Regions from separate parts of the Homo sapiens genome. Here regions 1, 2, 3 and 5 are each linked to region 4. Evidence: fine-mapped expression QTL. A gene starts in region 4. Each other region holds a variant in brackets. All regions are shown on one strand. Distances are between the middles of the regions.

Region 1 (5,103 bases), 82 kb after region 4:
AAGCTTACATCTCACATCTTTCAGCCTATACCCACACATCTATTTCCTGCGGTGTGCCCTGAAGTTGGAACAGTAGAGTAGGCATTCCTCATGCATACTAGATCTAGCTCTATTATTTTACTTAGTTCTATGTAGTCTAATTGTGTGACTGGATACCCAGTTATATGGTTAATCAAAGTTAGCATCATTCTGCTTAAGAACAAGGGCAGGGCCAGGCTGGAGATGGCCTGGACCCACGTGCTTGACAGGCCTTTTACAGAACAATAAGAGGCAAATGGAGTGATTTCTGCATCCCTGGTTGAACAACATGAGACCACTGGTGTCACGGGTGACCCAGTTCAGAGGACGATGATGAGCACTTCCATGTGCATGGTCCTTCACGTTACAAAACGCTTTCCTATGCATGTTGCCCTTTGATCCTCCAGTCAGCTGGATGAAGTATCCTCCTTCTTCTCCAGATGAAGAGACTGAGGCCTGGTCATTACACACCATGTTCAGGGTCACTTGTGAAATTGGAACTCCTGGCTGGGCACAGTGGCTCATGTCTGTAATCCCAAAACTTTGGGAGGCTGAATGGACAGATCATCTGAGGTCAGGCATTCAAGAGGAGCCTGGCCAACATGGCGAAAACCCATCTCTACTAAAAATATAAAAATTAGCTGGGAGTGGTGGCGCACACCTGTAGTCCCAGCTACTCGGGAGGCTGAGGCAGGAGAATCGCTTGAGCCTGTAAGGTAGAGGTTGTCGTGAGCCGAGAGCACATCACTGCACTCCAGCCAGGGTGACAGCAAGATTCCATCTCAAAAAAAAAAAAAAAAAAAAAGGGATACCAAGTGGCCAGTCTAAATTCATTTGCTTGTGTGGCCCACTGGATGCCTTAAAAAAGGATAAAGTGGACAAGTAGTATGTCCAAAGAAACAATAGCCTGGACAGATATTTGAGTCCTGTAAATGAGGCTGGGGCTGTATGTAGATCTGGTGGTGCTTGCTGTAAGGGTTTAATAATAGAGCCAAAGCCCTGTAATCCCAGCACTTTGGGAGGCTGAGGTGGGCAAATCACCTGAGGTCAGGAGTTCGAGACCAGCCTGACCAATATGATAAAACCCCGTCTCTGCTAAGAATACAAAAATTAGCCAGCGTGGTGGCGGGTGCCTGTAATCCCAGACACTTGGGAGGCTGAGACAGGAGAATCGCTTGAACCCCAGAGGGAGAGGTTGCAGTGAGCCGAGATTGCATCATTGCACTCCAGCCTGGGCAACAAGGACGAAACTCCGTCTCAAAAAATAAATACATAAAATAAAAATAATAGAGCCAAAGCCTCTTTTAGATGATTTTGCTGCATTCAAGCTTTCTAAGTCCAAGGGGTTGTGTGTGGGTGTGTCTGTCTGTCTGTCCTTCTCATTATGTGTTCATTTCTATCTGGTGAGGAAGCAGAAGTCATTATGTCTATAAATCTTGCATCTTTTGAGCCTTGACATATTTTAGACAATGTCCCAGTGGATGCCACATGTCCAGTCATCTGTGACTCCTTCAGGAAACTAAAATGCACACCTAGAGAGGAAAGAGTCAAAAGCCAGAAATGCAGGTAGAGTCCACGCTGAGGTTCAGGTCATCCAATAGAGTGTTTCTTAGAAAATAAGCCTTCTGCAGTATGCAGAGGAAAGGCTTTCCTCCCTACCTCCAGCTGCTGCTCTGCCTCCTTCCTGCATAATTTTTTAAAGCATGCAAAATGAAATGAGGCCCTTCACGTATGAGACAGCTATTTTCTCAGGTCTCATGCCTTCCTTATGAATAGCTCAAATAATACAACTTATAATTATGCTTTGCCTGGCAGCATATTTTTGCCTTCTGAGTGATAGTTGATATTTCCTGGCAAGTAAATACCCTTGGGAATGAGCCTCTTCTGTCCCACCTGGTGCAGGCGGCCCCTCTGTTAGTGTTCCTACCCGCCCTGGCCTCCAGGGCTGCCTCCCTGCAATTCTTAGGTCTTTTCGCCAAGAAGCGCTCCCCAACTTCCTCACTTATCCCAGGGGCACAGGGAGGTCTGAGCACCCCTCCTGAGGGAGCCATGCCAATCTGATTAATTAAGGTAAATAGGGGAGTGATCGGTAGTGGCTTAAACTCCAGTCAGGTAACCTAGGTAATGGCAGGGAGTCTGTGCCACTGCTGACAAGTAATGTGGGATTAATTTCTTCCCAGATCTATGGCCTTCTTTTAGGCTCAGGGTCCTCTTCAGGAGCCTCAAAAAGGAACTAGGCTATGGATAAC[A/AGG]GGGAGGGGAATTGGTAACAGTCAGCCAGGGTTACCTGTGGGTGTTTTGTCCCTCCAGGAACACCACGTGGGCAGTGTAATGGAGTATAGTGGGCAGACATCAGAGGCCTGGGGGTCAGCGCCACTCACCTGCATCAGGAACTTGAGCAAATCCCTCCTGAACCTTGCGTTAGCCAGCTCCATGTTCCTATCCCAGCTACCACTTCCATGTCAGTTTCCTCATCTATAAAATAGGAACGATAATAATAGTGCCACCCTCTAGGCTTGTGGTGAAGATAAGGACTTGAAATTGCCTAGCGCAGAGCCTGGAACATAGAGAGTCCAATAAGTGTTAGCATTTCAGGTCTTCTCTATGGGAGAAAGAGGCTCGGAGTGCTCTGTCTTATATGTACTCTTTTTTTACAGACAGGGTCTCACTCTGTCACCCAGGCTGGAGTGCAGGGGCCAGATCATAGCTTACTGCAACCTTGAATTGTGTACTCTAGACGGTAGGAAATGGGCTCAGCCTGGAGGTGGATCTGCAGTTTCTGGTGGTTAGGAAAGGGGGCTGCAGATGGGGAATGCTGAGGGCGAGGGGTCAGCTGAGGCCAAGAGGGCAGGCAGGAAGACTGGGACTAGGGAGAGAGTGGCCTCAGAGCCAGGAGAGGAGTGGAGAGGTTAACACTGCACTCAGAGAAGAACCTAAGCTGTTGGAGGAGGATCTTCTGAGGTCACAGATATAGAGGTGTGGCCCCTTGCAGGAATTTGGTTCAAGCCTGACTTCCTGTCTAGTGGCCCAGTTACTTGCTGAGCATGCAGTTTTATAGCTGCTGCTCCTGGCTTGAACACTGGCCGGCACTGAGAACCTGATTCTGGTGGTTTCTCCACCATATGAAACAAAGATCGTGGAGAAATAAAGTCACATGAAAAAGACGTGTAAGCTTCCTGTTCAGGGAGTGAGGCCAGCAGATGCATAATGTATGGTTTCTCATGCTGCAAGTGGACTGGGGAGAGAGTTTGCAATCTGTGGAAACATTTCAGACTTTTGCAAGTTATAAAAGGAGAGAGGGTTGCCAGGAGCATAATGTCCAGTAAATAGCCCTGAGCCTGGCCAAATAACCTCAGACAAGCCAATCCCTGGGGCTCAGTTTGTTTATTAAAAAATCTGGAGGGGATACACAAGCAGTTGTTAATAGTGGTTATCTCTAGGGGGTGAGAGTAAGGGTTGGGAGTAGGGAGAAATTTTTATTTTTCATTGTACCCTTTTGGCTGCATCTTTCACCATGTGCCTTTATTACTTTTATAATTGCAAATCAAATTATAGGGTTTTTGGCATTTTAAAAATGCCGTGAAGGAGTTGGATTAGATCATTGGTTTTCAAACTTGTTTTTTAAAGCAGTGGAACACTTTTCACATAATCTTATTTGAAAGCCTAATTAATGTATCACAAAGAAGAAATTGGGGCCCCTCTTGCCGGGCTCCCCCTCCGCCTCCCAGTTGCTGCATCTCCAGAGATCCATTGAATGTAGTTTGAAAATAATAGGTTTATATGATTTCTCTGGAGCCTCTTTCACCTCTTCAATTCTATGCTTCCCTTCTATTTAGCAAAGAAAGCTAGGGCATTCTAGCCCTGTAGCCTAAGCTGCTGCTTGTACTGCAGTAGCTGCAGACACACTCTGGCCCTTTGGAGAGTCAACAGTTGGGGAGGATGAGCTGTGTACAGGCTGAATGTCATTCAGATTCTGGAGGACAGGAAACAGGTCAACCTTGAGTTACTTCTGGGTTGAAATGATAGACAATGTTAGAAGGTGGATTTTGCAACAATTCCAGGTAAAACTGAACCTGGGGCTTTGATAGGTAGGATGCTAAAGAGACATTGAAATGGTGTAAGGTGATAGAAAACCATTCCCCTTGTAAAAACATGCTTATGAACACAGACCTGCTGCTTACTTATGCTACTATCTTGCCAAGTTACTTAGCTTCTTGGAGTCTGTAAAAAGGAGAACTACTAGTGCCTGCTTCCTGCAACTGTTGAAAAGATTAAATGAAACTATAGGTCTAAGTGCCTGGTATATTGCCTTGCCCATGATAGGAGCTCAATAAATGTGGGTCACCATCATCGTCACCAAATTCCTGGACAAGTCAGAAAATGGCCTTGCCACCTCTTCCTACGTGTTCTTGGTGAAACCTGTAACCTCTCAGGACCTCATTTTTCCTTATCTGTAAATTACAGGTACTCAACCAGCTCAGGAATTGCAAATTGGTGGCCTGCTAGATAAAATCTAGCCTGCAAACATGTTTGTTTATCTAATGTAATAAACTAAAAATCAAGAAATAGCCCCTAGAAATCTGAATTTTCCAGCTGCTCTTTGAAAAATGAACATCTAGTTCCATTGGCCCTCACTTGGCAACAGTTGGCTGGAGCTGGGGTAGCAGCTGCCCCTCACATGGGCATGCATGCACTCGCCTCTCCCCCAGCCATCATATTTCTGCAGTGCCTTACACCTGGCCACTCCCCCTTCACAACATACATAAGCAGCTGAGTTTCCAACGTCTGGATTGGAAGGTTTCAGGAATTCTGTGGCTTTCTCCTGGTTCTGACACTGGCTCATTCCATGACCCTGAGTGTACTCCTTCACCTCTCTGGACTACCACATCACCGTCTATAAAACGAATGAGTTGAGCTTCCAGACTCAGCTTTCTTTGGGTCTTCTATTCAGTTCATAAACATTTACTGAGTTGCTCCTATTTCCAGGAATTCTAAAAAGCACGTGGGAGGATACAGAGATGAATAAAAATGGGTCTGGCCCAGAGATGTTTTATAGCAATGCCTCTCAAAATGTAGTCTGCAGACCAG
Region 2 (5,103 bases), 240 kb after region 4:
CAACAGAGCGAGACTCCATCTCAAAAAAAAAAAAAAAAAAAACAGAAAAAAACCTCTGCATAGCAAAAGAGTGAACAGACAACCTGCAGAATGGGAGAAAATATTTGCAAACTATACACCCAACAGGGGACTAATATCCAGAATTTTCAAGGAACTCAAACTACTCAACAACCAAACAGACAATCTCATCAAAAAGTGGGCTAAGGATATGAATAGTCATTTTTCAAAAAAAGAAAAGCAAATGGCCAACAAGAATATGAAGAAAGTTCAACATCACCAATCATCACAGAAATGCAAATTAAAACCACAGTGAAATATCATCTTACACCAATCGGAATGGCTGTTACTGAAAAGACAAAAAAATAACAGATGTTGGCTAGGATATGGAGAAAAGGAAATTCTTATACACTGTTGGTGGGAATGTTAATTAGCATAACCTTTATGTAAAACAGTATCTACCCTGTGTGTGTTTGTATATACATATATATATACATGTATGTGCGTATACATGTGTGTGTATATATACACACACACATATACTAGTATTCCATTGTGTGTGTATATGTGTATATATATACATGCACACATGCACCCACACACACAATGGAATACTATTCAGCCATGAAAAGGAATGAAATAATGTATTTTGCAACAACATGGATGGAGCTAGAGGCCATTAACTCAAAATAAACGAATCAGACAGAGAAAGACAAATGTTGCATGTTCTCACTTATAAGTGGGAGCTAAATAATATGTACATTATTACACATTAATATGTGTGAAGTAATAGTCGATGAAAACTCAGAAGGTCTCCATTGGGTGGGAGTTGGGAGGGGGTGAAGGATGAGAAATTACCTAATGGGCAAAATGTATATTACTCCAGTGATGGATACACTAAAAGACCTGACTTTACCACTATGTAATCTATCTATGTTTGTAACAAAATGACACTTGCACTCCATAAATTTAGACAAATAAATTAATTAAAAAAGAAGTGGTGATGGTTGCACAACTTTGTAAATATACTAAAAACCACTGAATTGTACGCTTTAAAATGGTGAACTTTATGGTATGTGAATTTTATTTTTGTGGGGGTGGAGACAGAGTCTCGCTCTGTCACCCAGGCTGGAGTGCAGTGACACAATCTTGGCTCACTGCAACCTCCGCCTCCTGGGTTCAAGCGATTCTCGTGCCTCAGCCTCCTGAGTAGCTGGGATTATAGGCATGTGCCACCACACCTGGCTAATTTTTGTATTTTTAGTAGAGACAAGGTTCCACCATTTTGGCCAGGCTGGTCTGACCTCAAGTGATCTGCCCAACTCAGCCTCCCAAAGTGCTGGGATTACAGGCGTGGGTCTGGCCTATATCTTTTAATATATATTTTTAAAAGTTTTAGTTCCTTTATGGTCAATACACAAGAATGTTTTATTATATGTCGATGTTAAAGCTCTGTCCTATATTTGCATTTTTTAAGTTTATTTGGACAAATTTTATGTGGCCAAATGTATTGATATTTTCTTTTGTAACTTTGTTTTGTTTAAAAAATATTTTTCCACCAATGAATAAGATAGACTTTCACCTATATTTACTTCCAAAATGCTTAATCATTTCCTGAAAAAGATTAAATTCTTTTATTAGAAAAAAAGAAAAAAAGAAACAAAAGGGGGAGAGTATTCCAGGTGCAGGGGCCAACATGTGCAAAGACCCCATGGAGGGAGTATGGCGGGCATGAAAGGCAGGCAGGCTGGAGCAGAGAACAGGAAGGAAAGAGGAGAACAGGGAGAGGGTAGGCAAAAGCCAGCACCATAGGCCCTTGTGGGGCACATTAAGGAGACTCTGATCTTTATTTTAAGAGTAATAGAAACCATTAAAGGGTTTAAAACTGGGCACAGTGAGATTATCAGATATGCCCTTGACTGATGTCTGGAGCCAGGAAGTGACTTACTCCACTGCTTAGCACATAATGGGCACCCAGGGCAAACACAGTGAGAAACAAGCCAGGGCAAGTGGACCTCTGGTGCCTCCTCAAAGACACTGACCACTTAGGGGCAAGATCCTTTCCTTGAGCTGGTGGAAGAATGGGAGTAGGTATTACATTTCTCACCCATTTTAGCTCCTTCTCCTTCCAAGCCTGCAAGCGAGAGTAGAATCCAATGTATCTAAGATGCTGAGCTAGACACAGAGTGTGAGCTTTGTTGTTGTTGTTGTGGTGGTGGTGGTGGTGGTGGTGGTTGGCAGTGGCACACTTATTGGGAAACAGTCAGAGAAGCCAGCAATTTGCTCAAAGTTTTGGGCTCTACTTTTCTCTGTTTGGTTGGAACTGGGGCTTAGGGGATCCTGGAACTTAGTAGAAGCTCAATAAGTACTTGATGAGTGGACAAATGGATGAGTACTATATTTTCAGGTACACACCAGGCCTTTTTTCCCTCCACTCACAGCCCACAGCCCTTCTGATAGGCCGGGTTCCTGCACTTGATATATGCTACATCCCATTAAGAGAGTTCCTTCCCCTCCCTAGGCTTTGGATTCTCCACATGAGAATAAGGAGAAGGAGGCAAGTTAGATAATGGTCAGCCTGGACTCTTAGAGTTCTATAAATCTTGCATCTTGTATTTTGCAATGACCTGGTTTTGTTAAGAATTTACTTTCCAAGCTCAGCTGGGAGGTAGGGGTGGGACTCCCTCCCAGTTCTGTTATTGGTATCTCCCAACCCAGGGCTTCTTGGTTTTTGCTGTAAGTGGGTCCAACACTCAACATCCAAGGCTTCCCTGCTGCAGCTGCACACAGCTCTGCCAACCTCTGGCCTCGGGCAGCTGGTTCCACTTTTGTTATCCTCAAAGCCTGGTCTGCCCAGCTTAGGGACACCTGGGGTCCATGGTGGTGCTGCACCTGCACGGCAGCCTGCAGTTCTTCCCTTCGAGTGTGACTTCACTCAGGCCTGGCAGAGTGACAGCCCTGGGTGTGCTCACACTCACACTCACTCACA[CACA/C]ACACCACGGGAACAAAAAAAAAAAATGGTGAACCCCCAGAAAGGCAGTTTCTTAGCAACTTTACAGCCTTTGTTCATGAACTCCTTGGAATCCAAGTATCGTCTGATCTCCTGCCAGCTTCCGCCTGAGGGTAGGAGGAAGAGGATGGCAGGTCTGCCTTTATGAGAGCCCAGAGCTAAGCCCCCACACCACACCACTGGCCTGTCAGTCAGCCTGGGAAGCAGAGGCCTGAATTCTGCGTTTCTCTGGGATCTGGGGAAAAAATCTCTGCTATGATTTCTTCACAGCTGCAGCCACAGAATCCCAGGGCTTGGTCATTTAATCAACAAACACGGATTGAAATAGGTACCCTGGGCTCATGGTGTTTCGCATTTTGTACCCACAGTGATTGGTCCCAGCTCTGTCCTAGGCCCTGCAAATACCAGGTGCATAAGGGATGATCTGCAACTTCTATGGCCTAGTGATGAGAACAGATTTGAGTTCCCACACAAATTAAAAGAGAATAACTTGATTACCACTGCCTACAGGTAACTTTACTCCAGGCCTTTACAATAAACCCAAACTCCCTAGCCTGGCCCAAAAGGCCTGTTGGGACTGATCCCTGCCTACTTTTCCATCACCTCCTGGCAGGACCCCAGTTCCCCACAGAGTCCAAAGCTCTCTCACCTTCGGACCCTGTTCCCTCAGCTTGGAATACTCTTCCCCCCTGCTCTGCAGCTTCATCCTTTAGGTTTCAGCTTTACTGTCACCTCCCCCAAGAGGCTTCCTTGACCACCCTATTAAGAATAGACATCCCCCCATCATCATTCTTAATCATTCCAGCACCTCTGTAGCTCCTCGCATGGCATGTATCCTGACTTACAGTCGATTGTCATGGTTCATGGTAGTTATGTTCTGTAAGTCACCATGAACACAGTTAGTGAATACTGAACTATTGTCCCTAGGGGAAGTACAGGGGTACGTTCCTGCAAGCCTCTGATCACAACATTTTAATCAAGTGATCAATACATAATCTTGTTTTATATGCATTTATGTTTAGAGAGACCTTAGTTAATATTTATCATTGATTCATTAAATTGAACTCACAGCCAATAGCACTATGACTCATGCCTCAAGCAAAGGTTCTCCAATACATATATTTTCCCTGTAAGGCACATCACAGTCTTCTTGTGCTCAGGAACACTAGACAGCACTTCAGCCCTATGCTTGGGCACCATGTAAACCAAAATCACCAACAAAAAGCTTAAAAATATGAAAAATGTGGCACTCAATAAACCACCAAAGGACACTTGTTTACAGTATGAGAGCTGAAACAAGAAGGCAGATGTCCTCTGGTTCGACCTTAGCTGTGAACGTGTGTGTCTACAGGCTGGTATAACAAAATAACTTAACCTGGTTGACAACAGAAATTTATTTCTCACAGTCCTGGAAGCTGGGAAGTCCAAGATCAAGGTGCCAGCAGAGTCAGTATCTAGTAAGAGCCCACTTCCTGGTTCATAGACTACCATGTTTTCACTATGTCCTCATACAGTGGAAAAGAAGAGGGAGCTCTGCAGTGTCTTTTTATAAGGGCACTAATCCCATTCATTAGGGCTCCATCCTCATGAATTAATCACGTACCAAAGGCCCTATCTCCCATTTGGGGGTTTGGATGTCAACAAATGAATTCAGGAAGGGACACAGACATTCAGTCTGTGACAGCGCCTGCTGGACAACTCGAATTTTCTTCACCACTCTGTGCATATGCACATTCTCAAGTAATCTCAAAAGTGCCATATAGCAGGGTGCGGCGGCTAATGCCTGTAATCCCAGTGTTTTGGGAGGCTGAAGTAGGAGGATCATTTAAGTCCAGGAGTTTAAGACCAGTATTAGCAACATAGCAAGACCCCATCTCTACAAAAAACAAAAAAAAGGCAGATATGGTGGAACATGCCTGTAGTCCCAGCTACTAGGAAGGCTGAGGCAAGAGGATTGCCTGAGCCCAGGAGGTCAAGACTGCAGTGAGCTATGATTGTGCCATTGCACACTAGCCTGGGTGACAGAGTAAGACCAGTCTCAAAACATACGAATTTTTTTTAAGTGCAATGAGCATTGATTTTTTTTTTTTTTTGAG
Region 3 (5,103 bases), 110 kb before region 4:
ACCCTCCCACTGCCATCTTCTCCCCAGTACTCTTGCTCTGCTGTGTACCACTTAGGCTTCTGGCTACCCACGACCCCACACTAAGGTGCCTTCTCTAGGCAAAAACCCAGGTCCCAAAGCTTCCCCTATGCCCATTTCTCTATCAAAACTCACCTTTCCAACATCCTAAACAACTGTAAGATTCAAAAGAAAGTCTGCTATGTAATAAACTCCCCCATGTTCATGACTGATAGTGGACTCAAATGGTTCTATGGTGGTTTCTTTTTAAAACTGATCTCCTAGAGAAATGAACCTTTACTCGAAGGTTAAGGCACTTAAGGTAGAATTCTGGGAATTCTGAAGCAGAAAATCCTCCCAGCACACCTCCAAGAGTACAGTTGAGACAACCACCACCATTGCCACCATGTGATACTAGTCCTGGGTTAGAGGTATGTGTGTTTTCAAGCACTATCTTGATAATGATCTGGTCTCTTTTATGTATCTGAGAAATGCCCTTCTTCTTATCATACCAAATCTAAAGGCATTCATCTCCATTTCCTTGGAGCTCTCTTTTAATCCATCTCTCCTTTCCACCCAGTGCCTGCAGTCAAGAGAGTGCAGGAAAGGCGAGGAGGGTCCCAGCTGCCCTGTTACTGCTTCTTATAGCAACTCCCGAGGCAATTACATTCACCCCTTTCTAAAATTCTCAAGCACCAAGTTTCAAATGCCTCATTCCCACAGGACTTTACCTCTTTCTTACAATGCTGTCTAGGTAAATGGTAATAATGAAAATGATGGTGGTGCCAGATGTAATGGGTTTCTTCTCCACGTTATGATTCATGGTGGTCTGAGGGATAGAAAGAGCCCATTTGGATAAGCACAGTAGTCAAGAACTGAAGTTTATGCCTGCTGTCTTGACATAATTATTAATAGTGCCTTTCACTCTCAAAAGTGTCCTGGTTTGGGTGACAAACTATTTGGTCATCCTATTAGGAGCACAGGCTTTGAAGTGGATTTGACCTGGGTTCAAACCCCAGCCTGTTTCTTACTAGCTGAATGACTTTGAACAAGTTACTTAAGGTCTATGAGCCACAGTTGCCAAATCTACTGATAGAGAATACTATTAGCACTGAGTTCACAGGGTCATTTGGAAGGACTGGCCTTGCACATTGCCAAGCACATGGTAAGATTGCAACGTGAGTCACCTCCAATTCTAAAGTTACAGAGCATACATTGTACAACTTCATTTGTGGACTCACCTAGGCAGGAAAGTAGACTCTTGAGGATGTTTTGCATTGGAAAAACCTGGACTTGTAACCAGACAGACTAGCATTCAAATCCCAGCTGCACCACTCACTAGTTCTATGACCCTGGGAATTTAAATGACCTTTCTGAGCTTCACCTTGTTCATCTGTGCAATGGGGATTAAAATCTCAGAGTTGTTGTGAAGGGAAAATAAGATAAAGGTATTAGAAAGCACTCCATATGAACTCAATAAATGCTGCCTCTTATCATTACATTTGCCCAGGTACACATCCAGGGTTCACTGGTAAGGGAAGAAGCAGATCTAGCCCTGTGCTCTTTCAGTTATATCTTATGGTCTCTGGGGACTGCATTCTTCTTCCTCCATTGATCAAAATGTTGTCCTAAGCCATCGGCATTATTTCCCACTCTAAATCCTTCTCAAGCTCTCCCCCTCTTTATCATGGAAATTAGAAACAAGAAAAGGAAGCATCATGATGACATGCAGCTGGCCCCAGGGTTTTTGGATTAGAACCAAATTTCATGTTTGTGGAACTGATGTCAATTTGCTGGCTATGTGACATTGGGCAAATTACTCCACCCCACTGAGCTGCAATTTCCTCCTGTGTAAAAAGAAAATAATACCCTTTGCAGGGTGAGCAGCAAACCCAAGTCATTCTAATTCCCAAGCCCATGCTTTTAACCTTTATTCTGCTTCAAGTTCAAGAGCTGTTTAGTCTCATGGCCATTTGGGCAGCAGTTAAGATGATAGCAGGTAGTGAGACCAAAGTTTCTGGACTAGAACCTACGTTTCAGGTGCATGGGATTGAATTCAAAAGATTGGGATTTGGGCTAAGGTATGAAGTATGACGCTACCTCATTCGAAAATAGTGTACAAAGCATCTGGCCTGTTTTTTGTTTTACATAACTATATCCCTGTAGCATAAACCATGGCCCACCAGCCAAAACCATCCTGCCACCTATTCTGGTAGCGTTTTACTGGAGCAGAGCTATGCCCATTAATATATGTATGCAATATGTCTGCTTCCTTGGAACTATGGAAGATTGAATTGTTGCAACAGAAACTGTATGGACTGCAAAGGGTAAAATAATGTGCTATCTGACCCTCTACAGAAAAAGGTTGCAACCCTGCTCTAGGGCATAATACCACTTTAAGTTTTAATAATGATAATTACAAGAATACGTGGTGCTGAGTGCTTACTCTATGCTGAGTGCCGTTCTATGGCTTTATATGTATATCTTATTTGTACTTGCAATAAATCCATGATATACACAATTATTCCTATTTTATGAGTAAGGAAACAGACAGAAAGAGGTTAAATAACTTGCTGGAGATCCAGTGGCTGGTAAATGGCACAGTTGGGATTCTAACCCAAGTAGTGTCAAGTATTACATTTCCTTGGAAGTTTGCAAACACATTTTCTTTCCTGATCAACTTGACCACTCATGATATGAGAGACAATTTTAGATGGTTCATAAACACCTTATTAAGAAACATCCTCTCCTATGGTGAGAAAGCCATTCCCTTTCAAGTTCACTTTAACATGACAAATCTCCCTTTTAACAGAGAGAGTGAACAGTCTTTTCACACACAGCAGTACCTTGCTAAAATTTAACTTCTAAATTAAACTTTTAAACTTAAATTTTAAATTATATTTAAAATTTAATATATTTAAAATGTATTGCTTCATTTCATAGCATGTATTTTTTGTGGTCACCTTTTATTTGTGGAAAACAATCCTTGTTTTCTCTTCACAGCAATTTCCTTTCAAAAGAAATTTATTTAAGGATAAAAAAATACAGTCGATTCAGATATTAAGACCATGTTAATAATGGTGC[C/T]GAGGGTGTGTAAATATGACACAAATCATGACCGTGGTACAGAAATGAATGACAGAGACCAGGCGCAGTGGCTCATGCCTGTAATCCCAGCACTTTGGGAGGCTGAGGCAGGAGGATCACTTGAGGTCAGGAGCCCAAAACCAGCCTGGCCAACATGGTGAAACCCCATCTCTATTAACAATACAAAAATTAGCTGAGTGTGGTGGCGCACACTTGTAATCCCAGCTACTCAGGAGGCTGAAGCAAGAGAATTGCTTGAACTCAGGAGGCAGAGGTTGCAGTGAGCTGAGATCGTGCCACTGCACTATAACCTGGGCAACAGAGCAAGACTCCATTTCAAAAAAAGAAAAAAAAAAAAAAGAAATGAATGACAGAGATAGGAAGCCCTGCCCAGAGCACTGGCCCAGGAGTAAGGTGTCGTAGCCCTCAGCCCAGCCAGCAGCAGTTTGGTATATGGCTGTGGACAGATTGTCCCCTCCCTGAGCTCAGATTCTCTATCTATTGAGTAAGGAGTTTAAATTAAATTATCTCTAACATTCTGTGGCATCCTAGTTTCTTCTTCTTGGCCTGGAATTTACTATACTTTAACTCGAGCCAATATTAAATGAGACGTGTTAGAGATCCACCCTTTCAAGCCCCGTAAAGACAAAGGACTCCACTGCACCCACTATGTCTTTTCCTCTTTGAGTGAGTCTATTAATTCCTATCTAGATTCCTGCCGAAAAAGGTGAGGAGATAAATGCATGTAGTGCAGGATTCAATTTGTGCTTCTTGCCTAGAAATTAAACAGGTCTGGGTTGGTCCAAGGTGTTTACAGGAGAAAGATAAGTTCTTTGACATGTCCTCATTCACAGCGATTCCACCTGGGCCCAGCAGGCCTTCTGATGGGTTTTCTCTCCCTTTGGAGGGCTCTGTGTCTGCTCACCCAGAGACAGCTGTGGCCATACCTCATGATGGCTGGGGAAAAAAAAAGAGAAGGATTTTTATGAAAAATTACAAGGTGCAGCACTGCAAATGGATGCCAAGCCTATATGAAAAGTAACCTGACTAGAAGCAGCAAGAGTGGAAAACCCCATTCTTCTCACATTTAAAAAAAGTTGTGGGGTAGAGGATGCCCAGGATAGGCCAGGTGCAATAACTTATCCTATTAATCTGCTATATTTAGTTCTTTTACCCCACATCAATCCTGAGAAGGAGTTATCATCATCATTTATTAATTTTATTACACTTTATAGTATAGATTAAGAAACTGAAATTCAAAAACATTTCATTTCTCTCATCAATACAGCCCTAATAGGTATAGGTATAATTGTTCCCTATTTTATATGTAAGGAACTTGAGATTCAGAAAGATTAATTCATGCAGCTAGTAAGGGGTAAAGCCCAGATTGGAACAGAGGTCTGACTCTCTGCAGGCCTTTTCTGTGCACTTCCTCACATGTAGCCTCAGGAAAACTTTATAGTAAGAGAAGGCAAGGGGCAAGAATTTCTCCTACATGTCAGATCATAGGGGCATGGACCTCGCACAACATCTTCATATTTCATTCCTCATTGTGTGTCAAGAATTCCTACGTGGTCAAAATGATGCATCCTTTTTCCCCAGGCATCCACAGAGATTTGAACCATCTGTCAGCCCTTCCTAATGGCAGCTGATGGAGACATCTGTGGCCAAAAGCCACCACTGCCAGCAAGGAGCAGGTTAAGAACCTGTTCTCTGTCTTGATTAAAATTCTTTCCCACAGGCTCTGCACACACTGTGAAGCAAAAGTCATCTGCAAGGCCCAAACCTCTGTCCTCAGGGAGTCCCCATCTGTAGTGGGCACTATCGATGCCCCAACCAGTGCCCCTCAGATCCCCTTTACCCCTTCTGTGATCCGTCTGCCAGCTTCTGTGTGCTCCGCTCCTAATGGCTCACATCTGTGACTTTCTTCAGAGGCCTGCCCTGGGGCTGCCGGATCTGCTCTGCCCTCACTTTTAGAGAGCTGAAAGTGTTCAAAGCCAGTACTGACAAGGGCAGGACTAT
Region 4 (5,103 bases):
CAGTTCTGGAGATAGATAGCCGTGATGGCTGCAGAACAATGTGCATTTACATAATGCCGCTGAATTGTACACTTTAAAATAGTTCAAATGATCAGTTTTACAAACGTTTATCACAAAAAAATGTGTTTAAAAAAGACATAGAGTTAGGAGCTAGAAATAGAAAAATGGCCATTCTAGGCAGAGGTAACAACAGGTGCAAAGGTACTGAGGCAGGACTGTGCCTGCCTGAGGGATGCTCTGAGGAACAACAAGGAAGCCAATGTCACTGGGGCACAATAAGGACAGTAAGGAGTGAGAGCTGATCACATATGGGCTTGTAGGGTCCTGTACTTTCTTAGGAACCTAATGAGAGGTGGGAAGCCACTACAGGGATTTGAGCAGAGGGGCGATACAATCTAACCTTGGATAAAACAAGATCATTCTGGCTGCCACATTCTTTTATTTATTTAATTAATTAATTAATTTATTTATTTATTTATTTTTTTGAGATAGAGTCTCGCTCTGTTGCCAGGCTGGAGTGCAGTGGCACGATCTCGGCTCACTGCAACCTCTGCTTCCTGGGTTCAAGCGATTCTCCTGACTCAGCCTCCCAAGTAGCTGGGATTACAGGTGCCCGCCACCACGCCCAGCTAATTTTTGTATTTTTAGTAGAGACAGGGTTTCGCCATGTTGGCCAGGATGGTCTCGATCTCTTGACCTCGTGATCTGCCCGCCTTGGCCTCCCAAAGTGCTGGGATTACATGCATTTTTAAATCTGACTCTCATTCGCCAATGGGTATAAGAAAAGCATGTACCTCACAGGGTAACTGTGAGCATTTAAAGAGGTAATGCATCTCAAGGGCTGCCTGACATAGAGTAAGCACTCAATAAAAGGTAAGCATTATTGTGATGGAAATCTAAAGAAAGAAAACAGTTCCCTGAGGAGGAGTTTTAGAAGGCTTCGTGGAGGAGGTGGCAGTTTAACTAGACACGGAAGGATGAACAAGATTTCCACCGACCTAGAGAAGGGGGTTTTATGGGTAGAAGGAGCTGCGTGGTCAACAGCACAAGAAGGAAAACACAAAGCCTGCAACAGGCTAAGCGAAGCTCAGGGCAGGGCAGGGCAGGGCACGGCAGGAGACAGAACGTTTGATCAGCCCTAGCAGGTCATAGGAGAGGAGCATGATGGACTCTAGAGCCGAGGTGATGGAAGCCTTGAAGGTTTTGCTGCAGAAATCAAGAACTGAGCTGTGATGTCAGAAAACTGAATCCCCATCGCTCAGCCTGGAGCTGGAAGAACTTGGAGGCAAGAGTTGCCAGAACGCTGGTCAAGGACTAGTGGCAGCTAGGCACGAAGGTCAGCGGCTGAGCTAGAGAAGCAGAGAATCAAGAGGACGAATGTGGGGGTGGCAGAGAGTAAGGTAGCCAAGGGGGTGCTCCGTTCCACCGCATCAGGGAGGAGGCAGCTAAGTGACCAGCGTCGAGCGCCCCGAGGAGGAGCCGCTGGCTGGCATCACCGTCGGAGTCCGGCTCCACGGCCCTCCGCATCGCCCAGAAGCCCGACTCCTCTGTCAAAGCCCTCGCCACAGTTACAGACACATTGCCTGGTCTAGTGAAATTACGTGTTTCATGTTTCAGCTCCCAGACGTCAGGGCTCAGGTCTGTTTTCATTTCATCCCAGAGCCTGGCACAGTGTTTGGCACATAGTGGCGCTCGCCAACGGTTTGCTGAGAGCTTTCCGGGAAGGGCTCAGTGCGCTTAGGATCCAAAAGCACGCGTGAGAATGCAGGGCATTCTAACTCCAAGGGGGTTGGACTTGCGTGAGGAAAGGTGCTGCAGAGAGGCTACCGTCACTTACCCACCCGCCGGTTTGCAGGATCTACAGACGGGCGGCGGCCGGGCACAGCTCCCTACAGTTTGCAGAGGGCGTTCACACCTAACGCCAGGGCCCCCCTAGAGGAAGAAAACCAGGGCCCGCCCGCGGAACAGTGAGCGTGCAGCACGGCTGTGGCCCCGTTTCATGGCCGGGAACACCGAGTCGCCGGGGTCAAAGTAGGTCCGCAGGTCCTGGGGGCCGAGCCTAGGTGGGCTGGAAGTGACAGCCCCGGGGGCTCCAGGCTCAGAACGCCCGGCGGGGCCCCAGCACTATTTGCATATCCCCAGGGAGGCAGCAAAGGTTCGGCTGCAGTCCCGGGCGGAGGTTGCCGGGCGGGGCGGCAGGGTACCCGGGCGAGCGGACATGCACCCCACCCAGCGGTGCCCAGCCCGCACCAGTTAGCGCCCAACTCGCCAACTCCGGGACTTTCGCAAAGCTCCAGAGGGCGGGGGAGCCGCCGAGGAGTGGGACGGACCATCGCGGCTCGAGAGGGGGGAAGCGCTCCGGCCCGGCATCCTGCAGCGCCCGGGCGGGCCGAGACGCTCCGTGAGAGGGCCGAGCCTGCAGCGCAGAGACTCGGCGGTCGACGCGGGGGCAGGCGGCGCGGGGCGGGCGGCTCGGCGGGGCCCGGGGGCGGTGGCGGCGGCGACGACCCCCTCGTGGCGGCGGCGTGGTGGCGGCGCCCAGCTCCCCGGCCGGCGAGCGGCGGAAGTGCCGCGGAGTTGGAGCGGGGCCGGCGCCGCAGCCGCTTCTGCTGGCTGAGCTGCTGCCGCCGCCGGGCGGACGGGCGGACGCGCGGAGCTGGGGGCGGCGCGGCGGGGCCGGCGGGGCGCGGCGGGGCTGACCGGCCCCGATGAGGCGGAAGGAGAAGCGGCTCCTGCAGGCGGTGGCGCTGGTGCTGGCGGCCCTGGTCCTCCTGCCCAACGTGGGGCTTTGGGCGCTGTACCGCGAGCGGCAGCCCGACGGCACCCCTGGGGGATCGGGGGCGGCGGTGGCGCCGGCGGCGGGACAGGTGAGTCCCCCCGTTGCTACAGGCCGGGAACACCCCCTTCCCGAATTCACTTTTAGCCTGTGGTTCCTTCCTCCACCTTCTGCTGTCTGCCTCCTCAGAGTCAGCTCCGAGACTCTTCAGCTCTTCCCATTTTCCGGATGGGAAAATTAAGTCCTGTCGGGACTTGTCCAGGGTCCCACGCCAGTCAGAGACTGAGTCCGAACTAGCACTCAGGACGCTATTTCTCACCACATGTTACCACCTTCCTTTCTGTCCCCGTCTGGTATTCCTTGACGTCTTCCAGCGGATCTCTTTTGAAGGATCCTATCTGCATCCCTGTATCCCAGGATGACTCCTGCCTTGTGCCAATAGGAATGAAGATTCTGGTTCTTCTATTTGGTGTCCAGGTCCTCTCTGCTTCCCTCCTCCCACCCCCCCCCCCCCACAACCCCTACCTGCTGATCCCAGTGTTCTTTGCTCAGGTCAGCCCTTTTCCTGATTTCTCATCTGCCCAACGAGACACCCGGGCCTTCCTCCTCTCCCCATTTATTCAACACCCCCGCCCCAACTCTAGCCTTTTCCTTTCTCAGATCCTGTGGATTCCTTGCAGAATGTAAAGATCATGCTCCCTTTAAAGCTTCAAGCCCCTGGGGGTGGAGAAGGGGGTAAGCTCCTGGTCCTTGAGGGACCTGCTGCCTTTGACCTTATGGGAGTCCAGAGGTGGGGCTCTGGTGGGGGGACCCCCAAAATGTCCCAGAGGCTATTGGTGCCCAGTGTCCTGAGGATGGAACACCAGAAGCCTTCCCTATCTCTTCTGAACTTGTCTAGTCTGGTTAGTTGTAGTGTTTATTGCAGCCAAAACTGGGATCGGAATGGTTTCTGCCTCCTTTGAACTTACCCACGTATGTTTGTGTGTATGTGTGCGTGCACGCATTTAGACTAGCAGCTCCCTCATAGCAGAAGCTCTGTCACATCACTCCCACCCTCCCAGGAGGTGCTAGTGAGTGTATTGCTTAGACTGTTTCATATAGTGGAACATTTCAGGCTTTCTTACGGGATTTCTCTGGTCCCATGAGAAGTGGATAATTTGTGTATCAGGGTCAGACTTGACTGACTGTTGGCTGGCCTCGACGAAAGAGGCTGGCTTTTCTGAGATTGATGGTTTTCCTTATTCTTCCCAGTATCAGGCTGCTGTCTAGGCAGTCTGGCATCTGGAGCACAGAGGGCTCTTTGCTACAGAGCTGACCAATTTGAGCTCCGCCTGTAACTCTGTTAATTGCTGCAAAGCATCCCAGAGGGTCTCATTGATCTTTCTGGTAGAGCTTACTGTTTAGAAACTAAGGTTTCCATCTCTTTCCTAAACCCCTGGTTCAAACCCTGACAGCTAGCTTAGACCTCTCTCCCTGAAATTCTGTATCTGTATGGATTTTCCGTTCATGAAATCTCTTTCCTCTGTTCCTATTCAGTACCAGCATCAGAGTCAGGAGTTCCAGGGTTCTGACCTCAGCTCTACCACTAACTTACTGTGTGTGTCCTTGATCACCTTTCATCTCCTTTTCTGAGCCTTACTTTCTTGGTCTGTAAACCATGATTATTGGTCCAGTTCTAACATTCTGTGATACTATCAGTTAATCAATGAGGAATACAACGGTCCCTTCTTTTTTTCTGTCTTGAGTCCAGAGTTCCTTGTAGCATCCCTAGCTGTGGAGGCTCCATACTGGACACAGCTCCAGGTCAAGGGGGAGTGTCCTACCCTAGTGCAAACTCTCCTTTAGAATAGCTGTAGCCCATTCTAAAATAGTGCTTGACATTCTGCCTCTGCTTGGAGAAAGACCTCGTATTTCATTTGCAATAGATGCCAAAGACATCCTGATTTTCATTTCTGTAGACCCAGATGGGTAGAGAAGGTCAAGGTTAACTGCCAGTTTGGCCTGAGCTTTCAAAGTAAATTACTCACTTGTGCAAGAGGGTATTGATAGAGTAAGGCAGACTTTTGGGCAGGGAGAGAGAGGGGAGCAACAGCTGGGTGCTGCTCAGAGCCCCTAACTGAAATGGATAGACAGGCTCATCTGGGAAGATCTAGTTTTTGTTCATTTCTTTTTCTCTGGAATAGCATGAAGAGGAGGAGGAAGAAGTGGTGAAGGGGGTTTGGGGGTTTGGGGGGAATACCAACTGATTATTCTTGCTTTAAAGAAAATCTCTTTGCTTCATGGGAGCAGCAGAATGGAGCTGTTTCCCCAATGATAAGCTCTTCTAG
Region 5 (5,103 bases), 230 kb after region 4:
TGTCCCCCATGCTGGAGGGCAGTGGTGCAGTCTCGGCTCACTGCAACGTCTGCCTCCTGGGCTCAAGTGATTCTCATTGCCTCAGCCTCCCGAGTAGGTGGAATTACAGGCATACGCCACCACACCCAGCTAATCTTTGTATTTTTAGTAGAGACGGGGTTTCACCACGTTAGCCAGCCTGTTCTCAAGCTCCTGGCCTCAAAGTGATCCACCCACCTTGGCCTCCCAAACTGCTGGGTGAGCCACCGCACCTGGCCAAGTTAGTAACTTTTAAAGCTAGGTGGTTAGAACAGGTTAATATATTATTATTTGGACCTCTGAGTTTAAATTTTTCCATAATTTAAAAAAAATGGAGAAAAAAAGAAAGTCCTTGGCTTTGCTATCCCTATTTATGATGCCCCTGTGCACAGGTATTCACCTTCACCTGGAGAGAGGACATCCGGCCTGGAGACCCCCAGCACACCAAGAAGTTCTGCTTTGATGCCATTTCCCACACCAGCCCTGTCACGCTGTACGACTGCCACAGCATGAAGGGCAACCAGCTGTGGAAATACCGCAAAGTAAGATGGGATGCGGGGGGAGCAGGGCACCTGCTTAATTTTTTTTTAAGGCAATACAGTGCTTCACCCCTTCTTTCAACAGAGCCCATCCACTTATTCATTTGTGCCACAAACCTACCATGCCGGATTTTGTAGTCATTCAAGAGTAGTCAGAAATCTAGACTTCACTGTGAAATCCTCAAGTCTTAAATGTTGGCAACTGATTCCATTTAAAAAGAAAAGTGCAGCCGGGCACAGTGGCTCATGCCTGTAATCCCAGCACTTTGGGAGGCTGAGGTGGGTGGATCACCTGAGGTCAGGAGTTCGAGACTAGCCTGGCCAACATGGTGAAACCCCGTCTCTATACAAAAATCAGCCAGACATGGTGGCTCATGCCTGTACTCCCAGCTACTCGGGAGGCCGAGGCAGGAGAAGCACTTGAACCTGAGAGGCAGAGGTTGCAGTGAGCCAAGATTGTGCCACTACACTCCAGCCTGGGTGACAGAGTGAGAACCTGTCTCAAAAAAATTAAAAAAATTAAAAAAATAAAAGATAAAAGGAAAGCACATACACACACACACACACACACACACACACACACACACACGATAAGGACCAGTGAGGTCTGACAGGAGGTGGGCAGTGTCTAGGTCCCAGGCCTGGAAGCTGCGTGCATCACTTCTGGCCACATCCCAGCGGGCAGAACCCAGTCCCACGGCAATACCAGCTGCAAGGGAGGCTGGGCAGCATCCGGCTTGTGAGCTCAGGAGGAAAACCAACAGGTGTATGAACAGCTAGTCAGTCAGTCACTTCCTCACTTTCTCATTGCTGGTATTGTTGCTGTGGTTTGACTGGCCACATGTCTCCAGTGCTGTCTGGCTTATTACCTCCATGTTTTGTAGGACAAGACCCTGTACCACCCTGTCAGTGGCAGCTGCATGGACTGCAGTGAAAGTGACCATAGGATCTTCATGAACACCTGCAACCCATCCTCTCTCACCCAGCAGTGGCTGTTTGAACACACCAACTCAACAGTCTTGGAAAAATTCAATAGGAACTGAGCCCTCATGTCCCCTTGGCAGGCCCCCCAGGGTCTGGCACTCACTGCAGACTTCCTCTTTCAAGGGAGGCAGGGCCCCTGTGGGCACTAGGTGTAAAAGGTGCTGGCCAAATGGTTCAGGGTGAAGAGGGCTCTTGATTCAGGGGCTGGGGTCTGCCTGGTCCTTGAGCCCCTGAGTTGTGGGGGTAGGGTGAAGAGCATATCCCACAAGAGGCCCCACAGGGAGCAGAGACTGCTTTAATCCCTGCTGACATCACGGAAAAGCAACAGAGCCTTTTCAACTTTGTCACTATGTCCCCTTGAACATTATGTGGGAGAACACCAAGGTAGCCTAGGCCACCCA[A/G]AAGTGAGTCCTGCGAGGTTGCCCAGCCCTCAGATGGCTCTCCTACATGATGGTGCTTTAGAAACAAAGGTAAAATTTGCCTGTTTGGGGCAGCTTTTAGTATCGATGCCACTCATCTGCAGCAGAAGAGAAAGAAGTCCTCTTGGGGCTTTTTAGTTTCTGCCGTCCTGGGGGGAACATTGCAGTTACTGCACAGCTTCTGTTCTCTGTCACAACCCCAGGTGATTTGGTCCGGTCAAAGGCCATACTTGGGGCCCTAAGAGTGTTCAGTATTGAATGCTGATCAGCTGCCAGGTGAGGAGTCAGAAGAGGGAGCCCCCCTAGACATTTCTTTGCAGCTATGGACATGCGGGATATCTCCCCCTGCTCTCTGGGTATTTGAAATGTCAATTTTAGCACTCTCCAGGCACAAGGACAGCCCAGCACCAGCTTTACAGGGCAGTGTTTCAGATGGCCCTGAGCCCACGGAAAAGGCCAGGTAGACCTCCAAACTAGAAATGCTGGCTGATTTGCCCTGATCCATGCTTCCATTTCCCTGTCTCTCTTCCCCAGGCAATTACTGGCCTCAAAAGAGGAACAGAGGTGCTGCGAGGTGCTCACCTCACAGAGTCTGGAGGCCTCCAGGATCAACTGTGGGCAAAGTGCCTGCCTCTGACCTCATCATGGTTCTAGTTCTCATACAGAACTCCAGAATTTTTAAAGAACTCTATAATTGGATTGCAAACTAGGATGCTACATAGGATTCTGGTATTCCACATCCAATATGGATTTCTAGAATGCTGTGATTAAAGGAGCCAGCCAGGTGTAATACAGTCAAGGCAGCCCCCAGCCTAGAGACAATCTGTGAAATCCAAAGTTGGTGGTGTTGGGAAAGCAGGGGGACATGTGTCCCTCAGCTCAGCAGAGGCTGTGGTACAACATGGTCCTTGGTGAAGACCTGCACCCCTGGAACCTCCCACCATCATCACAACTGTAGTCTCATTTGCAGTGGAGAAAAGAACCCGACGTCCCACAGCCAGATATACACCCAGCTCCATGCCAGCCCTTCATGTTTACCTTTTGCTTTGTTAATTACATGTCAGACTCCTAGAGGGCCTCCAGACTAATAGGAAGCATTTCTGTAACCAACCTGCCACCCACTGATTCAGAAATGGAAATCACATTCCACAATCTATGGCTTCCACCAGCTAGCCCAGGAAATACTTGAAATCAGCATTCCAATTAGTGTTGAGTCTCTTGATTGTGTCATTTACCAATTAAATAACTGAGACCTAAGTCTGGGAACAGAGCCACGAATCTGCCTTTGAGATGCTGGCAGATCTCAAGGCCATCAATTATTGGGGGAGGGAGGGACAAACACTCCCAATCATCCACCAGTCAGACTGAATGTGTAGCTGGCGAGGAATTACTTCCACTTCTGGCCCAGCACAAGCCCTGCTTTGGCCACCTGTCTGCAAGAGAGGCGGCCCCTGTGCTTGCAACGCTTACGTGTTGATCCCAGTGTCCTTTTCCAAATGAGTGCTGTAGCTTTAGAAGTGGCCCTCTATAGAAAGAAGTCAAAAGATGAGGCCCCTTCTAGAATCTAGGATAACAAGAGTGTTGACAGTTTGAGGAGTCGAATTGAGATTCATCATCAAAGAGCAATGCAGCGTCGTTAAAATAAAAACTGTGCCTTTTAAAAAGAAAAATGCAAATATAGAGCAAATCCCTAAACTTGAACCATTTCCTAGTGCCTTGCTAGACAAACATAAAGGGGCAGGGTTGTGGGGAGGGGAACGTTTTTGGTGGTGTGTGCAGTTCCTACTGGATGAGTGTGTGTTTCTTAATGTCTCATTTCAAGCAGGAGATGTTGGGTCTGGAGCAAGATCTGAGACTGAGATGTCCCCCAAGGGTGACAGGTCAGATTTATTTCAGTCAGTGCAAGTCACACTCCAAACTAAAGGCTGGGCAGTGCGTTTAGTCTGTGGCCTAGAAGACCTCATCAGCCCCCGAGAGGAGGCCTTGCATTACCTCACTGGGACCTGTTTGGGGGCCATCCCTGCGGTCCACCCTCTGAACCCCCAGCATGTTTGTCCTGTTTCTCACCATTGGGTTAAGGGGTGCCGAGCACTAGCTAGACTTCCACATAGTCCCACCCCAAGTGGGCGGCAGTGTTCCTGGCATGACCAGGATTCCTGTGAAAGCAGGAGCAGCAGCAAGCCGTCCCGGGCCTGCCTTTCCCATCCTTTGGTTCTCCTTTCCAGTCTGGGTTCACACCCTGAAAAGGGATGGGTGTGTCCTCTGAGCACTCTGGCATTTGTCATTGCTGAGCCCATATCAGTAGGTCCTGGGACTTGACAAAGTATGTGGGAGGGGAAGGAAGGACAGAACTTGACTGGCTCCATTTCATGGACCAACTGATCAATTGCCAGTACTAAGCCACTCATTGTTATGGCTTCCTTTTTGAAAACCACCTGTCTCAAGGATTCAGGTTTCTGCTCACATCCCCAGCTGATGCTCAATAAAACTCAGCCAGGAGCATATGGAGATGCTGACAGCCAGGTAATGGGTGAGACTGTGGGGTCCCTTTTCCTCTAAAGCCTTTACTCTGAGGATAAGGTCACAAAGTAGGGTGTGACTTGAAAGTATCGTGACCATGTGGCCCACCAGCAGCCTTTCCAAAGGGGAACTCCAGAGACATTTCATAATGCAAACAGCACTGTTGCTTTAAGAACAAGGCCTTTGGAGGTGGCTAAACTTGCACGCACGTGTGTGAAAAGCCATCCCATCTTCTGCCTCCAGTTGGAGCTTTCAGCTGTTAAAACAGTCAGAAACTATTGATTCTTCCCTTTAGGAAAAAATGCTCAGGCAGAACGGGGTACATCCACAGGAGGAATCGGACGAGAGGATGTGACATTCGGTCCAGGAGAGAAAGAGCAGTTTCTGTTAAAGATGTAACAAATGGATTTCCAAAGTCTACATGACATTCACTTTTCAAACTTCCCACCAGTTGAATTTCTTTTTTTCCTTAAGAAACAGGTGATGTCTTGGAAAACAGCTCCTTATGTCTCTCTGTGCATCTCCATTTTCCTAGTCTCTGGAGTCTCAAAAAGAGTGGCAAAGCACTTTACAGTAGTAACTGAGGAATCAGAGTCTCTGCTTCAGCGATATCTAGTTTGTAC

Evidence for each region. PIP is the estimated chance that this variant, and not a neighbour inherited with it, causes the effect. A credible set is the group of variants that fine-mapping cannot tell apart.
Region 1: its variant is the best candidate, but not a certain one, in a credible set for the expression of GALNT10 in whole blood (TOPMed, PIP 0.68).
Region 2: its variant is the best candidate, but not a certain one, in a credible set for the expression of GALNT10 in whole blood (INTERVAL, PIP 0.60).
Region 3: its variant is the best candidate, but not a certain one, in a credible set for the expression of GALNT10 in whole blood (INTERVAL, PIP 0.86).
Region 5: its variant is the best candidate, but not a certain one, in a credible set for the expression of GALNT10 in whole blood (INTERVAL, PIP 0.86).

The regions. Positions count from the first base shown.
Region 1 is chr5:154,270,190-154,275,292 of GRCh38, forward strand. All of the region lies in intron 1 of GALNT10 (polypeptide N-acetylgalactosaminyltransferase 10), which reads left to right. Among named protein-coding and RNA genes, the nearest start is that of MIR1294, 74 kb to the right of the region's middle. The variant A/AGG (reference allele first, on the strand shown) is at 2,268.
Region 2 is chr5:154,427,807-154,432,909 of GRCh38, forward strand. The region is part of intron 2 of SAP30L-AS1 (SAP30L and GALNT10 antisense RNA 1); the gene reads right to left. Among named protein-coding and RNA genes, the nearest start is that of SAP30L-AS1, 15 kb to the right of the region's middle. The variant CACA/C (reference allele first, on the strand shown) is at 2,987.
Region 3 is chr5:154,076,764-154,081,866 of GRCh38, forward strand. No RefSeq gene overlaps it. Among named protein-coding and RNA genes, the nearest start is that of MFAP3, 40 kb to the left of the region's middle. The variant C/T (reference allele first, on the strand shown) is at 3,082.
Region 4 is chr5:154,188,159-154,193,261 of GRCh38, forward strand. It overlaps GALNT10 (polypeptide N-acetylgalactosaminyltransferase 10), which reads left to right and starts at 2,575. Exons shown (of 12, transcript NM_198321.4): 1 at 2,575-2,867. The coding sequence starts at 2,709. It overlaps LOC124901118 (a long non-coding RNA gene), which reads right to left and starts at 1,921. Exons shown (of 2, transcript XR_007059010.1): 1 at 1,838-1,921. RefSeq lists an enhancer at 985-1,950 and silencers at 2,171-2,260, 2,351-2,450, 2,461-2,570, 2,661-2,740, 2,811-2,870.
Region 5 is chr5:154,415,373-154,420,475 of GRCh38, forward strand. It overlaps GALNT10 (polypeptide N-acetylgalactosaminyltransferase 10), which reads left to right. Exons shown (of 12, transcript NM_198321.4): 11 at 411-560; 12 at 1,442-5,103. The coding sequence ends at 1,600. The region is part of intron 2 of SAP30L-AS1 (SAP30L and GALNT10 antisense RNA 1); the gene reads right to left. Among named protein-coding and RNA genes, the nearest start is that of SAP30L-AS1, 28 kb to the right of the region's middle. The variant A/G (reference allele first, on the strand shown) is at 1,943.